Linked DNA regions of Homo sapiens: region 1 is linked to region 2. Evidence: fine-mapped expression QTL. A gene starts in region 2. The other region holds a variant in brackets. All regions are shown on one strand. Distances are from middle to middle.

Region 1 (5,000 bases), 23 kb before region 2:
AAAGTCCATTATTCCTCCTGAAGGAGCTCAGGATGGGATCAATACCAATGGGATCCAACTCTCCAGCCTCCTCTCCCACTGGAATACCTCAAGGAAGAATGTAAATGAATAGAAGGAACAGAGCAAAGGGGATGAGGATAGAATTTAAGAAGTCGTTGTGCTTGCTACGTTGGTGGCCAGATAGGGCCACTTTGGAACATCATGTAAACCACTTAATAACCTCCCACCACAGTATCTAGAGCAGGGCTGGGCCATGCAGTTTCTTCTCACATATTTTTACTTTAAGCAGAATACTTAATATCTATTGGCACGGCTCTGATGTTATTCATCAGACCTAACTCTGAAATCCTAGGACTCTAAATCATCAAGGCTCAGGTTCAAGTTCAACGGGGAGGAGAAAAAACAACAACAAAAAACCAGGAAGGCTGTCCAAGACATGTTTTCTGACTCTAGCCATAGAACTTGCTACTCTCTTCTCAAAGAAAACAAGCATTTTACACACTGTGAGGAGGGGGAGGGTGCTAATCATTACGCAGAAGTGTTTCAATGCACACACCACTCACATTTAGATTTACTTTCTTTTGCTGCATCTTTATACCTACGATAAACCTGGTTTAATATTCCATTAAAATTTTTTTTTAAACCACTGTAACTTTGTTTAATTTGGTTGCTGAAAAAAGTTCTACTTTGGTATAATCTTGTGTTTGTAACCGAGATCGCTTTTAAGAAGGCACATTCTTATCAGAGATAATTTGGAAAAGCTGCAGGTTGTTCACTGTTTGGTACTATAGTAATGATTATCTTGAACTTACAGTTTAGGGTCCTACTTGTTTCACTTAGCATGCATCCTAAGTATTGTCTATATTGTTACATAATCATGTGGTTTTCATGGTTGCATCATAGTCCATTACAAGGAAATGTCACAGCTTGGTTATCTATTCTTCTGTACTGATCATTTTCAGTTTTTCAATATTTATCAATAACTTTGAGCAGAAAATCTTCTAGATTTCCCTTACATTTTATATTATTTTCTTAAGATGGACTTTCCAAGGTCTCTTATAAAGACAATGAATGTATTTTAGGCCAAGGCTTCTCCAAGTGCAGTGTGTGCACAGATCGCTGGTGGATGTTGTGAAATACAGATTCTAACTCAGCAGGTGTGGGTTGGACCTGAGGATCTGCATTTGTCACAAATGCCTGCATGATGCCCAGACCGTGGCTCAGGGCTTTGGGCAGTCTCTTAAAGTTGCTGGTGTATTGGCATTGAGAGTATTTATAATACTCGTTTTGCCAAGTCACTGTGTGGGCTGGTTACCTAGGAGCTCCATCCCCTCAGAAGTACTTTCTAATCAAGAAGAAAGTTTGGATTAGACTGGTGTCCAGAGGGATGGGGAGCTGTAACACCTGCCTTCAATAAAAGCCTCTAAGCTTAGTTGTGGCCACCATTAGAATCATCTGGGGAGTACACACACACACACACACACACACACACACACACACACACTCTCTCTCTCTCTCTCTCTCTCTCTCTCTCTCTCTCTCTCTCTCTCTCTCTCTCAGCTCCCTCCAGACCACTACAAACAGAATGGCTGGCAATGGAACCTGGGTATCAGTATTTTTTAAAGCTTCCCAGGTATTAGAGGTGACTCTGTATAGCCAGGGTTGAGGACCATTGTTGTAAGCGCTTCCCAACTTAAATCTCACTGAGCTCCCAACTATGTTTTATACCTGCTTGGATGTAAAGCTTGGGGCTTATACATGCTACACTCAGACCTCTACACTTTCGACAATGGATTTAGCACAGCCATGAGTTGTCTTTGCAATTCAGAAAAAACAATAACCATTATTTCGGACAGAAAACAAGGTATTTGTCATCGCTGACTTCTCCATCAAACTCACTCTTTTGTAGCATTTGCTGGTCCCATCTTACTGAATGCCACCATTGTACACTCAGTCTCCCAAGCCAAAAACCTGGGGCTGATCCTAGCCCCTTTACTTTCCCATGCCCTTCAGATCTAAGCAGTTCTCACAGTCCTTTGCTCTGTATGTACTTGTTTCTTATAGAATGTATCACATTATATTAAAATTATCTCTTAGCATGGTATGTCCTTCAACTAGACCATGAGCCTCTTGACTCCAGAGATAGTATCTGATGCATCTTTTTATTCCCCACATCTAGTGCAGTGCCTGTCTAGCACAGAGTGGAGACTCCTGAAGTAACTATTGAATGAATGGATGAAATAAAATAGGTTTTGATCACATATAACCCTGGAAGATTATTCTTATGGTTGAAAGTTTCATAGCAGCATGGTGCTAGCAGGAGCACAGATTGCCTAGATAGTGCCTGGTGCCAACATGGCCTTGGCCTTGGGGGTGTGCAAGA[C/T]GGCAGACGGAATGCCCAGCACGCACTGAGTCCCTGCCACTCACCACCTGCTAGAGTAACACCTGCTGTTTCTGTTTGGCAGTTGCCTTTTCGGGCCTTGGCTTCACGACGTTCTACTTGGCGGGCAAGCTGCACTGCTTCACCGAGAGTGGGCGGGGAAAGAGCTGGCGGCTCTGTGCTGCCATCCTGCCCTTGTACTGCGCCATGATGATTGCCCTGTCCCGCATGTGCGACTACAAGCATCACTGGCAAGGTGAGTCCCTGCCCAGGGCCTGACTAGTCCTCACTGTGGTTGCCCCTCTCCTCCAGGGATGGGTGTAGAAATGCACCAATTGTGGGGAGCTAAGTGCCCATTGTCCAAAACCAGAGGAGGCTGAAATGACAGAGCGGATAAAATTTTGAAGCAAATATGCTGGTTCAAGTGAGGTCTGGCCTTCCTGGGGAAAGAATTGGAGCTCTTCTTCCTCCTTCATGCTCCAGGAGACTGCTTGAGTCCTGCCAGAATGTCAGGCCCTTTGGTTTAGTGTCACCCTTGGCCTGAGACCCAAATGTGATTTTCCTGCTGGATCACTTGCCTCAGTCCTCAGAGTTGGTGCCAAGTGGTTTTTGGCTTCCTTTGCTTATCAAATCCAGCCTACAAGGACGTATTTGTCACCATGGATGCTCTTCCGAAAGGTATATCTAGCCAGGGATTCATTCCAGTAATGCTCCAAGCAGCAGCTGCAAGCCTGGGGTGAGGTTTGCCTATATATATACATATATCAGTCCTGGGGTATTTGTTAAAAATCAAAATAACACAAAACAAGGGAGGGGCTTGTTCCTGAAATATAACTAAACCATGCCATGTCCTTCTGCAGACAAACTGCAGCTCACAGTCTGTCTGAAAGACAACCACCACCTGCCAGAGCACACAGAGAGCTGAGACGGAGGTGATGTCCATGGGAGGTGTGGCCTCCAGGAAGCATGGGGTCTAGGGAAGGGTTTCCCAAGGGCAATCCTTGGATCACCTTGATCAAGCTGCCCTGAGCTAGAAATTGGACTCTCTAGGGGTGCATCTGGAGCAGTGGCCTAGAATCTTCCTGGATAATAAGCAAGCCTGTCATTGCTGATGAAGTCTAAGAAACACTGGTAAAGAGCTCCACCATATGTGTCAATTTTAACCAAACAAAGGAAAGAAAGTGTGCCTGAATCCAGCTTCTTTGAATGAATGGGCTTCCATGATAGGTCTGTGACCCAAACCTCCTCTCCCTTTCTTGTTTTCCGACTGTTGCTGGGCATTGTTCACCTCCTTCCTCTCTCTGTCTTTGCAGCCAGCTGCCTTGCAGGACTGCCCTCTTCCTACCTTTTCCGGGGGTTTGTTGCAGTGGTAATGAGGCAATGGATGGGGACAGGGTTGAGGGGAACTCCTAGCTGAGAGCCCCTCCTTCCTCATCTTCTCTGGAGACCTTGTGCTCCTTCTAGCACTACACAGCTTCTCCTGTTCCTTCCTGGTCTCATCCCTACCCCGTATCCTCCTGGAGCTCATGCTCTGGGTGTCCTGTGACCCCAGCAGGAGCTTTGGGCTGGAGGATGAAGGGTATAGGGAAAGAGATGCTGACATGGTTTGGACAGGTGGATGCAGCAAGCATCAAGTGCTACTAAGGTCTGAGGCCCTCCTGATGGGGGAGGTCAGAAGAGGGTCACAGGTCTGAACCTGCCCTTGTTCTGTTTTTATCAATGACTTGGATGAAATTCTGGATGATAAGAAGCCGCATCATGAGATGGAAGGATGGACAGAGTCACTGGGCCAACAAAAACAGAGGCACAGCCCCCCATTGGAACTGGGAATATGTTCCCGCAGAATTGTTTCCCACCTATGTGAGTTAGGGCATTTCCCCATGAAGAATATTACGGGCCAAATGGCCTTTTATGGACTGCTTCTCATTGATCCCTTGTGAGCCAGTTTCCTCTTTGAGCACAGGAACTATCCCTAATATTTCACAGAGCTTTTCATAGATTGAATGAAATAATGGATCCAAATGTTCTTTGTAAATGGAAATTTACTACACACATGCAAAGTGGTATCATTGTTGCTTAGTACATTTTTTCTAAGGAAGGATGCATTGTGTTTCCCAAACAACTGACTTGGAGACAGACTTTTTTTTTGGAACATGATTTATTTGTAAGCTATGAATGCCAGGTTTTCACTTTTATTCAACCACTTTGGATTCGGGGAATGATTGGGGGTTTCAGAATTGAATCAATTTTTCCTTTATCTTGGAGTCAATAAGAGCCTTTGCATAGTACTAACAACCTAGGATGTGAGGCTGGCCTGTCTTCAGCACTCTCTGGCCCTACCCTGTTTTGTTCCTCATTTCCTAGCTGTGGTAGTGTAACATGGCCAGAGTAAAGGAATGTGGAATCACAGCTCTTGTCTTTAGGGAATGGTGAATTTATGCTGCAGCTGGTGTACCCAAGGCCTGTTGGCAACTGGGGCTTTGAAACCGTACTATCCAACAGGCACAGAAAGGAACTATGAGCAGTCAAGGGAGAATATTCATCCTGTGTGGGCTGTTGGGAAAGCAAAGCAAGAGAATTTATGTTCAGTGATGGTTAGAACCATATTTGGGAATCAAAC
Region 2 (5,528 bases):
CACCCGACTAATTTTTTTGTATTTTTGGTAGAGACGGGGTTTCACCGTGTTAGCCAGGATGATCTCAATCTCCTGACCTTGTGATCCTCCCAAAGTGCTAGGATTACAGGCGTGAGCCACTGCACCCGGTGCCCCTTTTTATTCTTTGATGACATCTTTTCATCCCAGTGCTTGCAGTGGTGCTGCCATGACTGCTTGCCAGTGGATTCTGTAAATGATCAGGAATAATAATGCTCTCAGTGACAGACAATGAGAGTAACATCTTAACACAAAATATGCTGTGTGATGGGTGGCGTCTCTTCTTGCTATGTGGTGTCTCTTCTTTTTTTGCCCTGGAAAGATCCCCAGACTGACATAGAACACAGTCACAGATGCCCTGGGGACATCATACACTGTGATGCTAAACACCTGCTTTCATCCACATACAGAGTGCTCTTCAAGGATAGCACGGAGGAAAGAACCACTTAGAATGGGGCCAGGCAGCCCTGCCAACATCTCTGCCACTTAACCTTGAGCAAACTGCTTCACACTCGTGAGCCTCAGTGTCTGCATCTGCAAAACAGGAATAACACCAACCTTATAGGACCTTTTACAATGGTTTAGTGATTTAGAATGTATTAGGTTGGTGCAAAAGTAATTGTAGTTTTGCCATTAAAAGTAATGATCAAAACAGCAAGTACCTTTGCGACAACATAATAAGATATCAGACCATGATAGTTGTGATTATTGCAGAGCTCCTGGGGTATCTGAGACATGAATAAAGTAAGCACCTGGCACTAAAACTCTCTTGTCTTAGTCTGTTCAGGCTGCTACAATAGACTATCATAGACTGGTGGCTTATAAACAACAAAAACTTATTTCTTACATTTCTGGAGACTGGGAAGTCCAAAACCAAGGCACCTGCTGATTTAGTGTCTGGTGAGGGTGTGCTTCAGGGTTCATAGACCCCTGTCTTTTTACTGTGTCCTCACATGGTGGCAGGGGCAAGGGAACTCTTTGGGGTCCCTCATATACGAATACTAATCCCATTAATTAGAGTCCTACCCTTATGACCTAATGCCCTCCCAAAGGCCCCCACCTCTTAATACCATAACATTGGAAGTTGGGATTTTGACATATGAATTTGGGAGGAGACATAAACACTCAGTCTGTAGCATCTCTGAAGAGTAAATAGCAATTCTGATACAAGCAGGAGAATTTCACTGGCAACACTGTTATGGTAATCAGGTATTAAAACCCTAATTGAATTATAATCCCTCTAATCGCTGCTGCCACCAGTAGGTAATGATACAATTTATCCTCTTAGGGAACCAGATTCCCCCTATAAGAAGGTTGAATTAATAATACAGCAAAATTCACTATGTTGATTTTTAGAAACATTAATATGTCTGAGGGGTATTCAACCTAAGTCAGATGTTGCTCCAGGCACCAGCTATTTGGGAGAAAAAGGCCCATCTGAGCCAAAGCCAGGACAAGACAAGCAGCTTTAGGGGTGCTAAGGAGTGAGAAGCCTCCATACACCAGGGCTCACTCCTTAGGAGGCCTCCTGAAAGAAGGGGAGCAGGAGAGGGGCAGGGAGAACCTGCATCTATCCAAGGAAGGGGGTGAGCTAAGCTGATGGATACTTGAATTATTGGAGAAAAGTGTGAAATTAGAAAAACCCATGAAAAGACCCAGAGGCTTGTGAGCCTCTTAGGGATTGCAGAATGTTTTCGTTCACATGGAAACCAATTGCACAAAAAGTGCTCATACCTGTATTCCAGGAGCCAGCAAGGATAGTGTGTATGCAAAGAGAGCTTCAGTGAAAGGGGAGTTTCAGGAAATGATGGACCCAGCCTTCCTTAAAAAGAGGAGTCAGATACCTCCTTGCACGCATGTGCACACATGTGTGTACACACATGCAGACACACACACAATAGAGATTGTCTAAAGGTGGGTAGTTTATATAGCTCTCCCTGGATCATATAAACTGTGTTTCACTTGGACTTGCCATTGACTGAAGCAGACTTTGCAGAACATTCCAATCTTCAGCTGGTTATCCTGGACTCCCAGTCAGCCCCATATCTACACCCTGGAGCTCTAGAAAGATCCCTTCCTGGCACAGTGGTTCACATTGTAATCCTAGCACTTTAGGAGGTGGAGGCACGAGGATCACTTGAGGCCAGGAGTTCAAGACCAGCCTGGACAACATAGTGAGGCCCCATCTCTACAACAAATTTAAAAAAAAAATAGCTGAGCATGGTGGTGCACACCTGTAATCCCAGCTACCTCTGAGGATCACTTGAGATCAGAAGCTTGAGGCTGCAGTGAGCTATGATCATGTCACCACACTTGAGCCCTAGGCGACAGAGAGGGACCCTGTCTCTAAAAACAAATAGAAAAGAATGATCTTTGAAGTCACACTCACTGCTGATAACTTGAGGGTGAACCCCCAAGGCAAAGCAGGGGCTGCCTTTTGGGGTTGATCTGATGAATATCATCAAAATAGAGTGATTTTCCACCCTCATAATGGACAAGAGCAAACTCAGCCATGCTTGGGATCAAATCCAGCTCAGATACTTTCTTGAGCAAATTACGAACCTTTCAAAGATTCAGTGTCCTCATGTGTAAGATGGGTTTTTTTGTGAGGATTAAATGAAGAAAGCATGTATAGAAAGTGCTTAGTACAGGGCTTGGTACACGGTAAGTGCTCAATAAATGTTAGCTCTTGTGATTGGTCAATGTGAGCTGTCACTGTGTTGTGAGGCACGGGCTGTTCTACATGAATGCATTTCCCAGAAGAGTCGTGTCTTGAGCCTCTCTCACATGCTGACCATTTTGTTTAAAATATTTGATAGATGAATTCTACACTCCCTGGCCTTCCTTGTCCAGAGGCTTCTTCCTAAGAACTCAGTGCCAGGATTTTGAGTAGCACTGGATATTCTGTGCAATGGGTTCGTTCATCCAATTTCCACCACTTTACAGATGAACTGGGGATCAGAGAAGGCAAGCCACCTCCCCAAGGTCACACAGCTTGTGAGAGCAAGACAACAGCATCGAGGCCTATGTAATAGCAGAGCCATTGCTTCTTTGGCTCTGCGGAAGCTTGTATTGTGGTATATCTGTGGTGTAGCTTTGCTGTCTCCTGTGTCAATGTCAGGAGGACAGGCTGAGCTCCTGGGACCAGAACCCCTCAGATTCCAGGAGGAGCAGAGAAAGCACAGATGGCCTGGAGAGTCCCAGGGGTGAGGCCAGCAAGTACTTTCTTCCCCCAGGTGCTCAGAGCATCCTCTGAGTTGCCAAACAGACTCCCAGAGGGGTCAACTGTGGGCCCTAAACCAGACAGCAGCTGGGAAGCAGGCTCTCAGGGGAACTGGGGTCTCACCAGCTCAGGAGCAGGCCAGGACTCCTCAGCACAGAAGCTGGGAATCTTGAGTGTCCAGATCAGCCTGAAAATCTGGACTTGGGAAAAGCCATCTGGCTGGGGCCACCTGCATGCCGCTGTGACTGGGGCATCCTGCTGCTCTCCTCTCTCACAAGGTGGTGCCATCTGCCTTGTCACTGCTCCTCAGGACAAGCCTGACTGCTCTCCCTGCACCTCTGGCCATTGAGAATCCGGCTGCTCCATCGTGGTGGAAAATCTTCCATGCTCAGAGGGACACCTTCCGACACTGGGGTTCTGGAGAGCCTGGTGCCACGAGACAAGGAGCCATGTGACAAGAGGGGGAGGGGTAGGAGTGGGAGACACAAGTGTGGTTTGGGACAAAATAGGGCCTGAGGCTCACGTGTTATAAAACCCCCTTTGCTCTGCCTGTCTCCTTGAATTGTGGCCAGTTTCACATGGGAAGCAACGTCGAGGGACAGGGAGACTGCAGGTGAGGCCTCAGGGCTCTGCATTCCCATCCCCAAAAGTCACCAGCGTGTGGCCTTGTGGGTGTCACTCCCCTCTGTGGAGTCAACTTTGTGCAGTGACATGCAGAGGCTGGACTGCTGCCACCTCATGCCCCTCCTGGCATGATGGTCGCATGAGGCTGAGTGATTTGCAGGTCTATGGGGAAACCCGCCTCAGAGATGTGGAGGAGAAGCCAGGCAGAGCGCTGTTCATTCCATTTCTTTCTTTTTTTAATCTAAAGGAGGGAAAGAGCTTTATTAACTCAAACAAAGGGATGCCATACAACTTCCCAACGATACTGTGCAGTGATGGTATTAGCTTCCACCTGTTCTTCCATTCTGGGGGCAGGGTGTGAGGACTGGCTGCTCTGGGAGACGCTCTGAGCTGAGAGAGAAGAAATAGCTATGCTAATAGCTGCCCCTTACTGAGTGCTCACTCTGTGTCCGGGGCTACACCGAGTGCTTGCAGCGGGTTCTCAGGCGCACTTAGAACAGCACTGTGAGAAAGGCACTTTTGCTGCCCCTTGTGTACAGATGAGGACAAAGAGGGACAGAGAGGTTTAGAACCTTGACCTATATCACACAGCCAGTGAGCAGACGACCGGAATTTGAATCCTGCAATCTCTCTGCAGAGCCTGCGCATTTAATACCACACACAGTTCTGGCCTGCAGTGAATTTGGTTGTTCTTCCTGCCTGGGGTGGTCAGTTTCCAAGCCTTTCCAGATGGACTTCTGCAGCCCAAAGCTGCGTGCTCCCCGTGCAGGCCCTTGTCAGAGCAGAGAAAGATGGCTGAAGTTGTTGTCCATCTAGATTTTTATCTTCAAAACATTGCTGAAATCAATCTCTCTTCTACCGTCTCCGATTTCCTTTGTCCTTATGGGTGGTCTACAACTTTACTATCATTTTAGTGGATGCAAGAGGAGTGGAGATAAACACGTGTTCAGCCTGCTGTGAATCTCTGCAGTGGCTATGTTGTTTCTTAAACAGATGTAATGAGGCATCTATTCCCTGTGTGCCATGTGCCCCTTGAGTAGGGGACATCTGTTTTGTGTTGTCTGTGTCTCCAGCATTAGAATGGAACCTGGCACACAATAGAGGCTCAATTAGTATTTGTTGAATAAATGAACATTAAGAAACAGAAAAGAGCCTTGTTCCTTCCTTGTGTCTCCTTCTTCATGTTTTGTAGTCTGTTGGAATCTCATTACTAGATTATTGTTCCAGAAACATGTTCCAAGGACAGGCATGTGCAGGCAGAATGGAACTGGGAACGTAAACGGGAAGCTTGAACCTGGAAAGTCACAAGGGGGATGGAGATTTGGGGAGAAGTGGGAGCTGGGAGAGCAGCAGCCCAAGCTGAAGATCTAAGCTGGGGGTCAGGAGAGCCAGCTGAGAGCTTTCTAGGCTGCAGCTGAGCACCCTGTCTATGGGCCTCCCAGCCTCCAGGTCACCAACCTTGTGGGGAGGTGGGAGCAGGTGGGAGCATAGGTGCTGGGCCCTAGTGGACATCGAGGTGCACAGGTGGCCAGTGAATGTGGGATCCATGGGGGCAGAGGGAAGCCCTAGGATGCTGCAGAAGCCTGAGGCCAGCCCGAGGCCGGCTCTGGGAAGAGGGGGAGGCAGCTGCCATAGGTGAAGGCTCAGGAGGGCACTCAGAGAT

Which allele goes with the higher level. Positions count from the first base shown, and alleles are read on the strand shown. Sizes are in standard deviations (SD) of each study's normalised expression.
For the expression in cerebellum of the gene that starts at base 2,842 in region 2, allele T in region 1 goes with a higher level than allele C (large effect, 1.2 SD a copy in GTEx).

What was found.
Region 1: its variant is fine-mapped to the expression of LINC01561 in cerebellum (GTEx, PIP above 0.99). The same link has a PIP of 0.9 or more in cerebellar hemisphere.

The regions. Positions count from the first base shown.
Region 1 is chr10:120,572,666-120,577,665 of GRCh38, forward strand. PLPP4 (phospholipid phosphatase 4) reads left to right here. Exons shown (of 7, transcript NM_001030059.3): 6 at 2,466-2,636. Among named protein-coding and RNA genes, the nearest start is that of LINC01561, 23 kb to the right of the region's middle. RefSeq lists an enhancer at 2,462-2,961. The variant C/T (reference allele first, on the strand shown) is at 2,384.
Region 2 is chr10:120,595,108-120,600,635 of GRCh38, forward strand. It overlaps LINC01561 (long intergenic non-protein coding RNA 1561), which reads left to right and starts at 2,842. Exons shown (of 1, transcript NR_103717.1): 1 at 2,842-5,016.